Regions from separate parts of the Homo sapiens genome. Here region 1 is linked to region 2. The links come from fine-mapping of genetic effects on gene expression. A gene starts in region 2. The other region holds a variant in brackets. All regions are shown on one strand. Distances are between the middles of the regions.

Region 1 (8,941 bases), 65 kb before region 2:
TGGAGTGAGACTCTGTCTCGAATAAATAAATAAACCATAACTTTAACATCCAGAAATGAGCACTTTTGCCATTTTGCTTTATATACTTTTATAGAATTTTATCCTTCTAGGATTTTTTCTTAACAGAAATAATTACTATATTCTATATGAACTATAGTATATCCTAATTGTATACTATTTTAAAAGTAGCTTCTTTCACTTAATAATGTGTTATAACCAACATATTATAACATTCTATAACCTATGTCAGTAAATGCACTGCAATGACTACATTCTTATGCTCTGTTGCCCAGGCTGGAGTACAGTGGTGCAATCTCGGCTCACTGCAATCTCCACCTCCTGGGTTGAAGCGATTCTCCTGCCTCAGCCTCCCAAGTAGCTGGGATTACAGGCACCCGCCACCACACCCAGCTAATTTTTCTATTTTTAGTACAGAGGAGGTTTCATCATATTGGTCAGGCTGGTCTCAAACTCCTGACCTCAGGTGATCCACCTGCCTCAGCCTCCCAAAGTGCTGGAATTACAGGCGTGAGCCAGCGTGCCCTGCCAATGACTACATTCTTTACGGCAATACGTGCACATGCTTAACTAAGTAATCCCTTACTATTAAACATTTAGGTTGTTTATAATATTTTCATGATTATAAGTGTTAACAATGAACATCCTTCTCATACATTTTTATTTATTAGTTCAATTTTTTCCTTAAGATAGAGCCCAGGAAAGTGACCTACTGGGTCAAAATGTATTCTGCATGTTTTCAAGATACCTGGGAGAAGACATCTTGACATCTTCAGTCAAGGCACAGAAAGCCCAAGTTTCTGCTACTGCCAACCTTGAACCGGCCTCTAAATTGTTTTCCCTTACTTCTAAACATACCTATTCTGTAGGTAACTGAGACCAAGAATAACCTCACCGGCCAGGCGCGGTAGCTCACGTCTGTGGAATCCCAGCACTTTGGAAGGCCAAGGCGGGTGGATCACCTGAGGTCGGGAGTTGGAGACCAGCCTGACCAACATGGAAAAACCCTGTCTCTACTAAAAACACAAAATTAGCCAGGCCTGGTGGCAGGTGCCTGTAATCCCAGCTACTCGGGAGGCTGAGGCAGGAGAATTGCTTGAACCTGGGAGGCGGAGGTTGCAGTGAGCCAAGATCGCGCCATTGCCCTCCAGCCTGGGTAACAAGAGTGAAACTCTGTCTCAAAAAAAAAAAAAGAAAAGAAAAGAATAACCTCACTATCCTGAGGAGTATTTTTTAAATCCAGCACAAATCTAGCCACACGTCAACACATTGAACATATACATGGTGGTAGTTCTGATATTTAGCCAGTATGTCAGATCAATCAGTGCATGCCATACAAGTTGCTAAATGTTTAAATGTTACGCCATGTAATGGCATTCACAATGTCACTAAGGTATTTGGCTCTACACTAAATAGCCCCACTTTGATCATTTTGAATTTTTTATACAATGGCCACGTTGTCATTTCTTACAACTGGCTATCAGAAGGATTATTCTCGGGCCAGCTGCGGTGGCTCATGCCTGTAATCCCAGCACTTGTGGGAGGCCAAGGCAGGCAGATCACCTGAGGTCAGGAGTTCCAGACCAGCATGGCCAACGTGGTGAAATTCCATCTCTACTAAAAACACAAAAACTAGCCAGGCATGGTGGTGGGCGCCTATAATCCCAGCTACTGGGGAGGCTGAGGCACAAGAATCACTTGAACCCGGAAGGTGGAGGTTGCAGTGAGCTGAGATTGTGAAACTGTACTCCAGCCTGGGCGATGAAAGTAAAACCCTGTCTCAAAAATAAATAAATAAATAAATAATAAAAAATAAAAACCTCAGAAGGATTATTCTCATAACCTCAGACTTTTTTTGTTTGTTACTTCAAAAAGTTACTTGCACATACTAAAAGGCAGATTGTTTCTTACAGGAGCCAAAAGAAAAGATCTTATTAGTAAATCTATCTAACTTACATGGAGGTAGAAGACTTTGATGAGCATCATAAGACTAAGTCCCTTAAATTTTTCCCAAGTTCACTGAGAAAAAAAGTATGGAAACATTTTACAGAATCAAAGTTATTATCTAGGACTTTGTTATCTTAAAAAATCATCCTGGGCCGGGTACGGTGGCTCACGCCTGTAATTCCAGCACTTTGGGAGGCCAAGGCGGGAGGATCACTTGAGATCAGAAGTTCAAGACCAGCCTGGTAAACATGATGAAACCTCATCTCTACTAAAAACACAAAAATTATCCAGGTATGGTGGTATGCACCTGTAATCCTAGCTACTTGGAAGGCTGAGGCAGGGGAATCACTTGAACCCAAGAAGAGGAGGTTGCAGTGAGCTGGGATCCCGCCAGTGCACTCCAGCCTGGGTGACAGAACAAGACTGTCTCAAAAAATAAAAAAAAGAAAGAAAGAATAAAAAGTCATCCCATGGGGAGGTTTATGTATAGAAAAACATCAATAGACATTTTAAAATTTCTACATAAAATGGTCATTAGGTAGGGAAAATATATTAGGAAAATAAACATATTATGTTCCTTTCACTTACATTTTACTTTTGTTTGGGGCAGCCTCTACTCCACCCCATCAAAGCATGCTGTTTCCCTATTGATAATTGAATTCCTCCTTGGTGTGTTATCTTAACTTGTTCTCCTTAAATTAGCTCATTCGGGCCCGGGCGCGGTGGCTCACGCCTGTAATCCCAGCACTTTGGGAGGCCGAGGCGGGTAGATTGCCTGAGGTCAGGAGTTTGAGACTAGCCTGGCCAACATGGTGAAACCCCACCTCTACTAAAAATACAAAAATTAGCCAGGCGTGGTGGCGTGCGCCTGTAGTCCCAACTACTCTGGAGGCCGAGGCAGGAGAATTGCTTGAACCCAGGAGGCGGAGGTTGCAGTGAGCTGAGATCGCATCACTACACTCCAGCCTAGGAGACAGAGTGATGTTCTGTCTCAAAAAATTAGCTCATTCTTTCTTCCCCTATTTTCTCCCAACAGAAAGTCTGTGTACTATGTATCTAAGTACGCTATTCAGTAACATAATCTCTTTGGGCATCTCTGACAAACTGGGTCACCTAAATGAACTTTCCAAATTAAAGCATCCCGAGGCGGGCGGATCATGAGGTCAGGAGATCGAGACTATCCTGGCTAACACGGTGAAACCCCGTCTCTACTAAAAATACAAAAAATTAGCCGGGCATGGTGGCGGGCGCCTGTAGTCCCAGCTATTCGGGAGGCTGAGGCAGGAGAATGGCCTGAACCCGGGAAGCGGAGCTTACAGTGAGCAGAGATTGCACCACTGCACTCCAGCCTGGGCAACAGAGCAAGACTCCGTCTCAAAAAAAAAAAAAAAAAAAATTAAAGCATCCTATTTAAGAGTGAAATTATTTTCTTCAACTTTTTTTTAAGAAGAAAAAAAAAATTCTGTGGGC[T/C]AGTCTTACAGACATAGTCTTTAAATGTAACTTGCTTCCAAGGAGATATACAAGTGAATCTGGCTAATCAAATAGGGCGGAATATGCTTACAGTTTGATTGTTATTCCAAAGGCCATCTGAAGACTCTGTCACGGTGTCATTCCCATCTACTCAACAAGAAGGAAATTTAATTAGAATTACAAAAAATATTGAATTTTCACTGCAGACACTAAATATATTCACATTACCTTCTGGCGATGAAAAGTTGAATGATAATATGACCAAATTCTGCAGGCACTGCAAGAGTCATACCAAGTTATTAATGTTATATTAATTTCTCCTGTAAAGTTGTATTTCTTAACCTTTCTGTCACCGGCTCTTTGAAAATGGACTCTTGTTTTTTCTTTATTAAAAAAATAATGCATGTGCACACACATGAATTTTATCTACTATTTTAGGGTCATCACAGAAGCCCATTCATGGAACCAGGTTAAGAATGCCATTTAAAGGCAATCAATACTTTTATGCTATCTAAACAGCTGTAAATGAATGGTCAGAGGCATGTACATCCAAAAACCAGAACCACCCTTTTCAGAATGGACATCATATTGGTTTTATATTCAGAAGGAGTAAAATATGCTGTAATATCAAAAACAGGTGGCATATAACTCCTGTGTTGTTGCCGATGTGCTTACATTTTGATCTAGAAGTGCTTTAGAAAATATGGCAGCCACCAGATCAAGCATATTATGCCATATAAGGATTAAGATTTTATGTAATATATAAGATACATTTCTCTTAGAGTTGAACATTTAAAAATTTCAACATGTTTTAAAATATCTGCTTTGTAATAGACAGTATATTCTCAGCCAGGCATGGGTGGCTCATGCCTATAAACCCAAGCACTTTGGGAGTCCAAGGCAGGCGGATCACTTGAGGTCAGGAGTTCAAGACCAGCCTGGCCAACATAGTGAAATCCCATCTCTAACAAAAAATACAAAAAATTAGCTGGGCATGGTGGCACATGCCTGTAGACTTAGCTACTCGGATGGCTGAGGTAGGAGAATCCCTGAACCTTGGAGGCAGAGGTTTCGGTGAGCTGTGATGGCACCACTGCACTCCAGGCTGGGCAACAGAGTGAGACCCTGTCCCCAAAAAAGAGTATATTCTGTTGGCCTTCCTAGACAACTATAGGTCAAATACAGAACTGACTTTTTACTGAGCATCTACCATGTAGTGAACACTTTACCTTCTAACAACCAGTTAGTTCCTTAATCCCATTTTTATGGATAAAGAAATACACAGGAAATGGTTAAACGATGATTTCTAATTAAGTGACAAGAGCCTCTGCTGATAACCTACACAACACATTGCACTTCTATCAAATGGAAATACTTAGGTCTATGAAATTCTGTAACTGGTGACAATGCTATAGGGCTCAACATGAATAAACTTGGACTAATATCTCCCCAACATTTACATTACTGTGTTTACATTTTACTGCTTCTGAGGCTTCCTAGAAAGCCAAAGGCAAGGCCAGGCACAGTGGCTCATGCCTGTAATCCCAGCACTTAGGGAGGCTGAGGCAGGCAGATCCCTTGAAGTCAGGAGTTCAAGATCAGCCTGGCCAATGTGGTGAAACCCCATCTCTACTAAAAATATAAAAAATTAGCCAGCGTGATGCTGCACATCTGTAATTCCAGCTACTTGGGAGGCTGAGACACAAGAATTGCTTGAACTCAGGGGGTGGAGATTACAGTGAGCCAAGATTGTGCCACTGCACTCCAGCCTGGGCAACAGAGTGAGACTGAGAAAGAAGGAAGGAAAGGGAAGGGAAGGGAGAAAGAAAGGACGAAGGAAGGAAGGAAGGAAGGAAGGAAGGAAGGAAGGAAGGAAGGAAGGAAGGAGAAAGAAAGAAAGAAAGAAAGAAAGAAAGAAAGAAAGAAAGAAAGAAAGGAAGGAAGGAAGGAAGGAAGGAAGGAAGGAAGGAAGGAGGAAGGAAGGAAAGAAAGAAAGGAAAGAAGAAAGGAGGAAGGAAGGAAGGAGAGAGAAAGAAAGACAAAGAAAGAAGGAAAGAAAGAAAGAAAGAAAGAAAGAAAGAGAAAGAAAGAAAGAAAGAAAGAAAGAAAGAAAGAAAGAAAGAAAGAAAGAAAGAAAGAAAGGAGGGAGGGAGGAAGGAAGGAAGGAAGGAGAAAAGAAAGCCAAAAGCAATATGTAGGTTTATGCAATATATAGAATCTCAGCCCTGTTTGTGACAGGTATTATGACCTTAAGTAACAGTTTCAGGAAGAGGATGGGGTGATGCAGAAAAACAGCACGGACCGGAGTCAATAAAATTTCAGTTCAATGCTGACAATGTCTGTTAGCAATGTAACTTTGATACTCAAGGTCCTTTTCATACACACAGTTATGTATGTATGTATAGGTATATAAAGGGGTGTGTGTTTATGTGTGTATGTGTGTGTGTGTATACAGTAGTGCCCCCTTATCCACAGGGGATATGTTCCAAGACCCTCAAGTAGATGCATGAAACCAAGGATAGTACCAAACCCTATAGAGACCATGTTTTTCCTAGATATACATACCTATGATAAAAGTTCAATTTACAAATTAGGCACAGAACGATATTAACAGCAATAAATAATATAATAGAAAAATTATAGAAATAAACTGTAATAAAAGCTATGGGAATTTAGTCTCTCTCAAAATATCTTAGTATTTGAGGAATATAGTTGACTGCTACAGAAAAGCAAAACTGCAGATAAGGGGAAAACTACTATATATATATTTCTAGCTACAGTACGCATGAACTACAACCTATTAATAGTACACAGCCCATCAAGTTGTTACAATTAAATTAGATGATGCATGTAAAGTGGTTGGCACTAAGCTATTATTATTATATAATGGGAAGAGGAGTGGGGAGGAGGGAGGGATAGATACTATGCAATGCACTTTCCAAATATCATATACTCTAATCATTCAAAGAGGAATGTTCAACAATTTTCCTGTGGGCACAGAACTAGTAACTTATAGCTGAAATGGGAGTTGTGTGTCTCCAGAGCAGATTTATAGCGCCTCCTCAATCTGGCAATAGCATTAAATATGGCCTGCCTTGAAAGAATTAAACAAGATAATATATCCATTTCCTGGCACATACATCTGTCAAAGGTGGGTAGTGGGCCATATGACAGCTCCAATCCTTTCCAGATCTAATATTCCTTGCTTCCATGGGCTTTAGGCAACTGAGGGCCAACCCAGGCACAGTAAGAACTTGGCCCAAGAGCCTTGGATCCACGGCCAAAATGGCAGCAGCCACACAAATCCTGGGGATACAGCTGCTCCACTGTCTGTTCCACCTGGAAAACTCTACTTTGACCAGGTTTCACTGACATAGTATTTCGGAGAATGATTCCCCACTCCTACTTTCTTCCTCCTTACACTCTCAAAGAGTGGGGTGCAGCTGCTCCTACCACTGTTACGTTGTGTTTTTATCTATTTTCATTTTGCTTTTGTGCCTGGAAACAGTTTGCGCTGAGGATTACACTTTCAAAACGAAATGTCGCCATTATCTAATCCCAGTTGAATGAGTCCCTCTGTGAATCACACTGCAGGTCCATTTTAAATTAACCAGCTACCAGGAATGATTGGCAAAAAAAGTAGGCCATGTAGGCTGGGGAGCAGCTGCCTACAGATTGGCAACAGCTGAGTACAATGAGTCATACACACAAGGAGGCCTGCAAGGTGTGACCTTGCTTGGATGCCACACAAGGACACAGAGCCAGCTCAGCATCACAGAGGAGCTCAGCACAGGGCACTCCCAGAGCTTACCACTAAGGGAAACAAGGAGAGTTAGCTGGGAAAGATGACAGGTTTCAGCATCAACTTTCTCCATCACAAGGAAAGACAGGTCAATTCTACACTTCCAAGGAGCAGAGACTCTAAGAGGCCTGTTCAGACTTGAAAGAATAGTAAGGATTGTTTGGAGCAGAGTAGCAGGATCTCAGAGGGTCATGCCTCTTTGATGTTGGTGTGGGTGTCCTCAACTCATCTGTCTTAGTCTGTTCAGGCTGCTATGATAAGATAGCTTAGATTGGGTAATTTAAACAGAAATTTATTGCTCACAGTTCGAGGCTGGGTAGTCCAAGATCAAGGCACAGGCTGATTACTCAATCTAGTGAGGGTCCTCTTTCCTATAGATGGTGTCTTCTATTTGTTCTTATATGGGGGAAGGGTCAAACAAGTTCCCTTGGGCCTCTTTTTGTTTAACTAATTAATTTATTGTTTCTCTCCCATCCAGAAAATGTAACTTGGGCCTTTTATAAGAGCATTGATTCCATTCATGAAGGCGGGGCTCTCATGACCTAATCATGCTCCGAAGGCCCCAGCTCTTAATACTTGCATTGGGAATTAGCTATCAACATGAATTTGGGAATTATCTATCAACATGAATTTAGGGGTGTGGTGTTATGAGATTATACATACATATATAGATAGATAGAGGTCTGTGCATGGTTCCTGGCTCATAACTCCCATATCCCTGATTATAGTCTTTTCTTATCATGGTAAGTATGTTTGACCTCAGGAAACAATATTGGACTTTCTCCTGCTCTCCTTTCACCTGACAAGGCAGAACTTTAATTTCCCCCGCCTTTCTGATTGTGGGTCATAAGACACTTCCCAGAGAGAGTCCTTCCCTGTGCCCCTGGGGGATGGAATGTTGATGTCTTGAAGTTTCCATAAAAACCCAAAAGGCCTGGGTGCGGTGGCTCACGCCTGTAATCTCAACACTTTGGAAGGCTGAGGTGGGCAGATCACCTGAGGTCAGGAGTTCAAGACCAGCCTGGACAACATGATGAAACCCCATCTCTACTAAAAATACAAAATTAGCCGGGCAGGATGACGCATACGTGTAATCCCAGCTACTTGGAAAGCTGAGGCAGGAGAATTGCTTGAACTTGGGAGCAGAGGTTGCAGTGAGCCAAGATCATGTCACTGCCCTCTAGCCTGGGTGATGACAGAGCAAGACTCCGTCTCAAAAAAAAAAAAAGTACAAGAAGACTAGGTTTTGAGAGCTTCCAGATAGTCAAACACTTGGAGGTTCCTAGAAGGTGAAGTTCCCAAGGAAGAGCATGGAACCCTTTCCCATATACCTCATCCTGTGCATCTCATCATCAGTATCCTTTGCAATATCCTTTATAATTATCTGGTAAACATAAGTGTTTCCCTGAGTTCTGGAAGCCACTCCAGGAAATTAATAGAACCCAAAGAGAGGGTTGTGGGAACCCCAACTTGAAACTGGCCGCTCAGAAGTTCCAGAGACCCGAACTTGTGACTGGTGTGTGTGGTGGGGTTGGGAGGGGCAGTCTTGGGGACTGAGCCCCTTACCTGTGGGATATGACCCTCTCTCCGGGTAGACAGTGTAAGAACTGAATTAAAGACACAGCCGGTGTCCACTGCTTGATGTATGGGGAAAAAACTCCACACATTCGGTCACAGAAGTCTTCATCTGAGTTGATGATTGTT
Region 2 (8,941 bases):
TTAAAGACTATAAAGTTTATTAACTTTTTTCCAGTTAAAATTTAAGTAAAATAATCCTAAGCCAGACCATCTTTTTCCCAGCACAGGTGTGTCTCCACCACTTCCCTCTTTTCAAACACTATTTCAGGTGCACGGAGATATCCATGCCTCCACTCTCACACTGTTTTCTCATCTTTTTTTCCCACATTCAAAATCCTCTGAATTCAGAGCCAGCTAAAGATTCCCTCCTCTGCCCCATGCATAGTTACCTGGGCCATGTCCCCTGGTGGTAAGCATCCTTGGAAAGGCTGCAGTGAAGTCTCTCTGCCGAGTCGGTGCAGGGGTGACCTTGGCTAATGTCAGAAACAACATAAGGATGAAAATTATCTGAGAGCAGAAAGCTTATTTCAGGGAATCAAAGGGGCAGCAAGAAAAAAATGCGAAAGACAATTAAGAAAGAGAAATACACCCTCAGCTTCCAAACCTGCCTGGATACCTACGTTGAGAGTGTATCACACACTTCAAATGTTTGACAAAGGTAAGATGCAGTCATCATTGTTACATTCTGATTATTAATAGCGGAACTAACAGCCACACAAATGGCCATAATTACAGGTTGAAGACTCCTTATCTGAAATGCTTGAGATCAGAAATGTTTTAGATTTTGAATTTTTTTTTTTTTTTTGAAACGGAGTTTTGCTCTTGTTGCCCAGGCTGGAGTGCAATGGCATAATCTCGGCTCACTGCAACCTCCGCCTCCTGGGTTCAAGCAATTCTCCTGCCTCAGACTCCTGAGTAGCTGGGACTACAGGCATGTGCAACCACACCTGGCTAATTTTGTATTTTTAGTAGAGACAGGGTTTCTCCATGTTGGTCAGACTGGTCTCGAACTCCCGACCTCAGGTGATCCACCCACCTCAGCCTCCCAAAGTGCTGGGATTATAGGCATGAGCCACCACGCCCAGCCATGTTTTTATTTTTTTATTTTTTAGTATCTGCCTATACTTATGTTCCAATGAGCTTTTCCTTTGAATGTCATGTCAGTGTCCAAAAAGTTTTGGATTTTAGAGCATTTCAGATTTTGGTGCATTTTAGGTTTTAGATTTTCAGATTTGGGATGCCCAACCTATAAAGGCTTTTAATAAAATATTATCACATAAAATCCTTCTAATGGCCCACATGATCGGTATTATTGTCATATTTTATAGAAGAGGAGCTCACAGCGTTTCAATAACTTGCTCAGGATTATATAGCTAGTAAGAGGCAGAGTTAGATGTAAACTCAGCTCTATCTGGGCACAAAGTACATGTTATAGAAATCTTAAGTCTGTTCACCTCCCAGCATACATGCATAACCCAGCAGTTCACCATGCTGGCTGCACCTGGGGTAAAATCACCTGAGGTAGACTCTGTAAAAAGCTAATGCTTAGCATCTACCTCCAGAGATGCTGATTTCTCTGGTTTTTGGTAGTGGGGTTTTTTCTTCTGCTTTTTAAGAGATAGGGGTAGCCACAGTATATCAGCCAGGCTGGTCTCAAACTCCTGACCTCAAGTGATCCTCCTGCTTCAGCCTCTCAAAGTATTGGGATTATAGGCATGAGCCACTGTACCTGGCATCTATAGTTGTTTAAAAACTCTCTATGTGATTCTAATGAGAGTCAGGGTCTCTAACCACTGATCTAGGCCTTTCATCCCATCTATACATTCCACCCATGAGTTTTGGCTTTTCTTTTCTTTTCTTTTTTTTTTTTTGAGACAGAGTTTCACCCTTGTCAGCCAGGCTGGAGTACAATGGCGAGATCTTGGCTTACCACAACCTCCGACTCCCAGGTTCAAGTGATTCTCCTGCTTCAGCCCCCCAAGTAGCTAGAATTACAGGCTCCCGTAACCATGCCTGGCTAATTTTTTGTATTTTTAGTGGAGACAAGGTTTTACTATGTTGGCCAGGCTGGTCTCGAATTCCTGACCTCATGATCCACCGGCCTCAGCCTCCCAAAGTGCTGGGATTAGAGGTGTGAGCCACCACGCCCAGGCACACCCATGAGTTTTAAAACAGAGAGAAGGTGTTAAATATCACTGAGCATCACCAATGGGGCCTGTTAAACTTTAGGTCTTAGTGGCCCTCCTCCAGGGCTATAATTAGGGAAGTCAGAGATGAGAACAATCAGTACCTTTAATATGATCCACAGATAAATCTTATTCATAAAGATGGCATGCAAATGTCCACTCACCTGGTTTGATGACCAACTTCAGGTTAAATTTTTCATCATTCATTATGCCTGGGATTTGGATCCGGCAGCAGTAGATCCCACTGTCTGCTAGAGTCACATTCTCTATGGTCAGGGACACATCTCCTTTGCGGAAATCCCCATTTAGCCAGTATCTGGATGTCCAATAATTCACATCCCTTTCATCAGTCCTGAGCACCACGTTGCCACATTCAAACACAGGACAGGCTCCTTTGCCCCAGCAGACGGGCACGAGGTTCCCTGGGGCGGCTGGGGTGTAGAAGCAGGGCAGATAGGCATTCTGACCGACCTCCGCTCTGTATTCCACTTCTGAGGACCCTGCATAGAGAGAGAAGGAGAGCCAAGACTCAAGCGGTGAGTGAGGTTACTCCATTTCAGGAAAACTGCAAGCCATGTCTTACAGAATAAAGAGGAAGCTACTGCTGCAGTCCTGTTTGGAGGATGATTCGCTGTGACAATGCTTCTCAGATGTGAAGGCCATCAGAATCACTGGGAAGCCTTGCGAAAACACAGATTGCTGGGCTCAACTGCTAGAGTTCCTGACTCAGTTGGCCTGTGGTAGAGCCTGAGAACTTTTATTTCTAACAAGTTCTCAAGTGTTGCTGAAGTGGCTGGTCTCAGAACCTCACTTTCAGAAACACTGCCCTAGGAGAGAATTGTGGCCCAATTCTGTGAACACGGGAGAACAGGGCTGATGGAAACAGACAATCAGAAAATTAGTCATGGTCAGCCAGGAAACGGCCCGCCCATCTGGGCTACTTGCTTGTTCATCAACAAAGGGAGGCTCTCCTAACATACTTCTCTTTTTAAGCAGCAAGTGCACAGTAAATACAAACCCTTGGTTAAATAAGGATCTTGTGTATTTGAAACTACTCATGGAGTTGTTTTAAGGTTTAAAGTTGTGAAAAGAAATTAAATTTTGGGACCCCAAACTCATTCAGTCAAAGGGAAAAGTCAAGCTGGGAACTGGGTCACAGAAACCTGCCTCCTCTTTTTGATTCCTGAATAAGATGGCTACAGGATGAAAGGCTGCATACCTCCCCCATATTTTGCCCACAAGGAAATTCCTGGTCAGCTGTGCAATGCAGATTGATAGCTCATCTTTACCGGTGCGGTCACCCTGGCCAGACACAAATGCGTTATCTGATTGTTTCCCTACCCCATTTTGTCTGTGTTATCTAATGTAAAATGCAGATTCCCCATATTTTTCCTCTGCCCCCCCCCCTTTTTTATGTGAAAACTGAGTGCTTCTCAATATCCCACCTTGTCCCCTTTAAATCTGGAGCCCTCAAAATCATCTTCTGAGAAAGTCATAGACCTGTCTCTCAGGTGCCTCCTTAACTTTGGCAAACAAATCTCCTAAAATGATTGAGACTTGTCTCCTCATTTTCCTCAAATGACAAAGTTAATTCCATTAAAAAAAAACTATATATATTTTATATATGATAAAACATTCATTATATATTTTCTTTTGATTTTTTATGTCCCCTTTGTTTTCATATGACTCAACTACAGTAAAAACATTCAAACACTATCAAAGGTGTATGAAAAAGTGGCCGGGCACACGGTGGGTCACGCCTGTAATCCCAGCACTTTGGGAGGCTGAGATGGGCAGATTACTTGAGGCCATGAGTTTGAGACCAGCCTGACCAACATGGTAAAACCCTGTCTCTACTAAAAATTAAAAACATTAGCTGGGTGTGGTGGTGCACGCCTGTGATCCCAGCTACTCCGGTGCCTAAGGCAGGAGAATCACTTGAACCTGGGAGGCGGAGATTGCAGTGAGCCAAAATGGTGCCACCACTGCACTCCAGCCTGGGCAATAGAGTGAGACTCCATCTCAATTGAAAAAAAGAAAAAGAAAGAAAAGAAAAAGAAAAAAAGGAAAGAAAAGAAAAGAAAAATATGCCTTACTCTCCCAACTCTTTACCATTCCCTGGTTCCTTTTCCTAGAGCTTATACATTAAGAAATGTCCACATATTCCTGCTCCCCGACAATGCACACACACAAATAGAAGCCTAATATATGCATTATTCTGCAACTTTTTTTCTTTAATAACATTATAATTTTGAGACATTCTATACCAGTATGTTTTGTCAGACTCACTGTTTGTATCATGATTATATCACATTTATTTACCCACTCCCTCATCGACGGACATTTAGGTTGCTTCCAAGCTTTTGCTATTACAAACAACATTACAATGGCCATCCTTGTATCTCTCCCTTGTCCTCTGTACAGCACCATTATGTCATTGTAAATATCCATGCCGAGACTTACTTGTAAGTAGTAGCAGCAGCAGCAGCAGGACACAGTCAAAGGGAAGATGTGAAAACATGGAGCTTGCAGAAGAAAAGTCAGAGGACACCTCTGTTAGGCACAGTTTTAACTCTCCAAATGGACTGGGTACTTCTTCCAACTGTCTACTCCACAATCACATGAGCAGTAGCCGCCCCCACTGAGTGCTAGCTCAGCACACCCGGGTGTCTGATTGCCAGTGATTCTTATAGTAACACTGCCAGGTCTACAGTCACATTAAAGGAAACCAAAGTTCTCTGTCATGCCACACTACACACATCCTGTAAGTGTTCTGATGTCTGTCCTGTGATATCAACAAAGAGGAAGCAATACTTCAGTGGAAGAAAACGCTACTCAGTCATGGCACATAAAGAGAACCCTCTAATAATGTCTCAGATGAGATACACCTGAAATGGAGCATGTCCGAGTCCATCTGACTAGCGGGGAACACAAAGTACAGATGCATCATCCATGGATTCATTCACTCAAATCAGTCCCTTCATCAGGCCTGTGACCAAAGTTTATGAAGCCCCTACTTTGCACCAGGCACTGGACTAGGAAGTGGAACACAACAGTGAATGGCATGTTCCTTATCCTCACATTTACAGACCATAGCAACTCCCAGCATAAGCCTCACTCTCATCCTTCTTCTAACACAGATTAGGTTGTATCCTATAACCTTGCTGAGTCTCAGTTTCCTCATTTATATAATTTATAAAATGAGAAAATTGTATTAGATAATACATGCATGGCTCTCTGTTCTAATATTCTGACTTTGACCTTCAAACTTCCAACTCTTCAATTTAGAAAAAACATGTTCCTTTTGGCAACAGTTCCTTTCCTCTACTCTGAGTAGAATTAAGGGGATCTTGGTATCCTGTTTCATCTCATGCATACAAGGTGCCCCCTCTCCCCTACCCCAAGAGGCTTTGGCCATGAATGATCAGAAAGTGTTGAGTTCCAGCCACACTCCCATAACTGAGGTAACAGCTTAGACTCACGTAGCCTCAGCTCTGGGAGTGTGACCTTTATCTGGACACCTTAAAAGCAAAAGCTTTTTTTTATAAAAGGGAAGTGAGCTCACAGGCTGAGTGGTTTCTGAAAAGCCAGTGGCCTTCCTCTATGTCTTGCCTTCCTGAGTTTCTTTGTCATTCACATTTATGCCATTAAATGCATTGGGTATAAATACCAAATTTGTTCAATATAAACAAATGGCATTTAATATAAATATGCAACTTGTTCAATGTGTGTACTTCCCATAGCATTGCAGAGTGGCAGTTACTCAAGAGATCATAATCAATTTCTCATTTTATTTTATTTTATTTTTATTTATTTATTTATTTTTTTGAGATGGAGTTTCGCTCTTTTTGTCCAGGCTGGAGTGCAATGGCATGATCTCGGCTCACTGCAACCTCTGCCTCCCGGGTTCAAGTGATTCTCCTGCCTCAGCCTCCTGAGTAGCTGGGATTACAGGCATGTGCCACCACCCCGGATAATTTTGTATTTTTAGTAGAGACGGGGTTTCTCCATGTTGGTCAGGCTGTTCTTGAACTCCCGACCTCAGGCGATCCACCCGCCTCGGCCTCCCAAAGTGCTGGGTTTACAGGCATAGCCACCGCGCCCGGCCAATTTCTCATTTTATAGACAAGGAATCTGAGACTTCAGAAAATTGATTTGCCGAAAGGCACATGATTGGTGATTTAGAATGAGAGCATAAGCCCCCTAAGTGACAGATTTTTTCCACTATAAATTATGTTTTATTAATTTAATGTTTGTCTTCCCACATAACTAATAACCAGCAAATGACCATATTCAAGCATAAGGTAGAATAGATTAAATATGGGGTCTGGGGTTATTTTTATTAGCAGCATGAACTTGGTCAAGGCTCTTAAAAGCATCAGCCCTCAGTTTCTGTGTTTTGTTTTGTTTTGTTTTTGTTTTTGTTTTGAGACAGAGTCTTGCTCTGTCGCCCAGGCTGGAGTGCAGTGGCGCGATCTCGGCTCACTGCAAACTCCGCCTCCTGTGTTCAAGCAATTCTCCTGTCTCAGCCTCCCAAGTAGCTGGGACTAAGAGCGCACACCACCATGCCCGGCTAATTTTTGTATTTTTAGTAGAGACAGGGTTTCACCATATTGGTCAGGCTGGTCTCGAACTTCTGACCTCAGGTGATCTACCTGCCTCGGCCTCTCAAAATGCTGGGATTACAGGCATGAGCCACCGTGCCCAGCGATGTTTTGTTTTTACCACTTTGTTTTCTGCTCATTTCTAGAATTGCTACTGAGACCAGCTTTATAAAACATTAACAATTTATTAGTTCATTAAAGTCTAGATATGAAGGGGTCTAGAGATCTCCTTTAACTCTCTTGTGTGTGTAGGGAGCTGGTTCTGAACATTTTCATGTTCACTTAACTTTTATTTCCTGTTTATTTTCTTAAAAACTTTAGATAATACATTCAAATAGTTAAAAAGTAAAAGGAATATAAAAAGCTCAAGAAGCCTTGATCCCATGATCCCATCCTTCCATGTTTACCCCCATTTCTCCCACCTATGCTATAGGTTTTCTTTTTTTTTTTTTTTTGACATAGAGTCTCGCCCTGTCACCCAGGCTGGAGTGCAGCGTCACGATCTCAGCTCACTGCAACCTGCGACTCCCAAGTTCAAGCGATTCTCCTGCCTCAGCCTCCTGAGTAGCTGAGATTATAGGCACCTGCCACCGTGCCCAGCTAATTTTTGTATTTTTAGTAGAGATGGGTTTTCACCATGTTGGTCAGGCTGATCTCGAACTCCTGACCTTGCAATCTGCCCACTTCAGCCTCCCAAAGTGCTGGGATTACAGGCTTGAGCCACTGCACCCGACCAGGTTTTCATTTTCATAAGTTTCTTGTGTATACTCCCAATGCAAACCCAAGAAAATAAAATATATATTCTCATACTCTCTTTTCTTAGACAAAATACCATATACCTTTTTTGAAACTTGCATTTTCCTATTGTTATTTGCTGAAATATTTATTTTTAAAATTTTATTTATTTTATTTATTTTATTTTTATTTATTTATTTATTTATTTTTTGAGATGGAGTTTCACTCTTGTCTCTCAGGCTGGAGTGCAATGGTGCTATCTCGGCTTACTGCAACCTCTGCCTCCCCTCAGCCTCCCAAGTAGCTGGGATTATAGGCACCTGTCACCATGCCCGGTTAATTTTTGTATTTTTAGTAGAGACAGGGTTTTACCATGTTGGCCAGGCTGGTCTCAAATTCCTGACCTCAGGTGATCTGCCCGTCCCAGCATTCCAAATTGCTGATTACAGGCAGGAGCCGCCGCACCTGGCCCTTTATTTTTTTTTAAATTTGTTTTAATTTATTTTTAGAGACAAGGGTCTCACTAGGTTACCCAGGCTGGTCTCAAACTCCTGGGCTCAAGGGATCCTCCTGCCTCAGCCTCCCAAAGTGCTGGGATTACAGGTGTGAGCCACCATGCCGAGTCTGCTGAAATATTTTTAAACGAATCCCAGACATCGTGCTATTTCACTTTTACGTACTTTAGTGTGCAATCTTCCTTTTTAAAAAATGGGCATTCTGAAGCCGGGTGTGGTGACTCACGGCTGTAATCCCAGCACTTTGGGAGGCCGAGGCAGGTGGATCACCTGAGGTCAGAAGATCGAGACCAGCCTGGCTAACACGGTGAAAACCCCATCTCTACTAAAAATACAAAAAATTAGCCAGGCATGGTGGTGGGTGCCTGTAATCGCAGCTACTTGGGAGGCTGAGGCAGGAGAATCGCTTGAACCAGGGAGGCAGAGGTTGCAGTGAGCCGAGATTGTGCCACTGCATTCCAGCCTGGACAACAAGCGCAAAATTTCGTCTCAAAACAAACCAACCAACAAACAAAAATGGACATTCTGCTAATATAATCATAATATCATTATCGCACATAACAAATTTAATGATGCCTTAGAAGCACCTAGTACTTCAGTCTATAGCCAAATCTCCCTGATTATCTCAAAAATGTCTTTTTTCAATCAGTTTGTTTAAATCCAGATCCAAACAAGTCCCAGCATTGCATTTGTTTGCTATGTCCCTCAAGTCTCTTTTAATCGAAGACAGTCTGCCCTCCACCCCCTTGCCATTGGTTATACAAACCAGTTATACAAACCAGGTTTTGTCCTGTGAAATGCTCCACATTCAGGGTTTGTCTGTTTCCCTGTGGGGTCATTTACATTATTCCTCTTTTCTTCGAATTTGCTGAAAATGAAAGTTTGCTCTAGAGGTTTAGTTGGAACGTGGTTTGACTTCTTGGCAAAAACACGTCACAGCTGGTGCCTTGTGCTTCACATTTCATCACAATTGTCTGGTTGCTCCACAGCATGCAACCTTCTTTTTTAAATGTATTTAAATTTTTTTTTTTTTTTTTTGAGA

What was found.
Region 1: its variant is fine-mapped to the expression of HAVCR2 in whole blood (INTERVAL, PIP 0.95).

The regions. Positions count from the first base shown.
Region 1 is chr5:157,039,101-157,048,041 of GRCh38, forward strand. It overlaps HAVCR1 (hepatitis A virus cellular receptor 1), which reads right to left. Exons shown (of 9, transcript NM_001173393.3): 6 at 3,527-3,582. Among named protein-coding and RNA genes, the nearest start is that of HAVCR1, 16 kb to the right of the region's middle. The variant T/C (reference allele first, on the strand shown) is at 3,436.
Region 2 is chr5:157,104,418-157,113,358 of GRCh38, forward strand. HAVCR2 (hepatitis A virus cellular receptor 2) reads right to left here and starts at 4,627. Exons shown (of 7, transcript NM_032782.5): 1 at 4,509-4,627; 2 at 2,210-2,545; 3 at 249-332. The coding sequence starts at 4,566. RefSeq lists an enhancer at 4,414-4,563.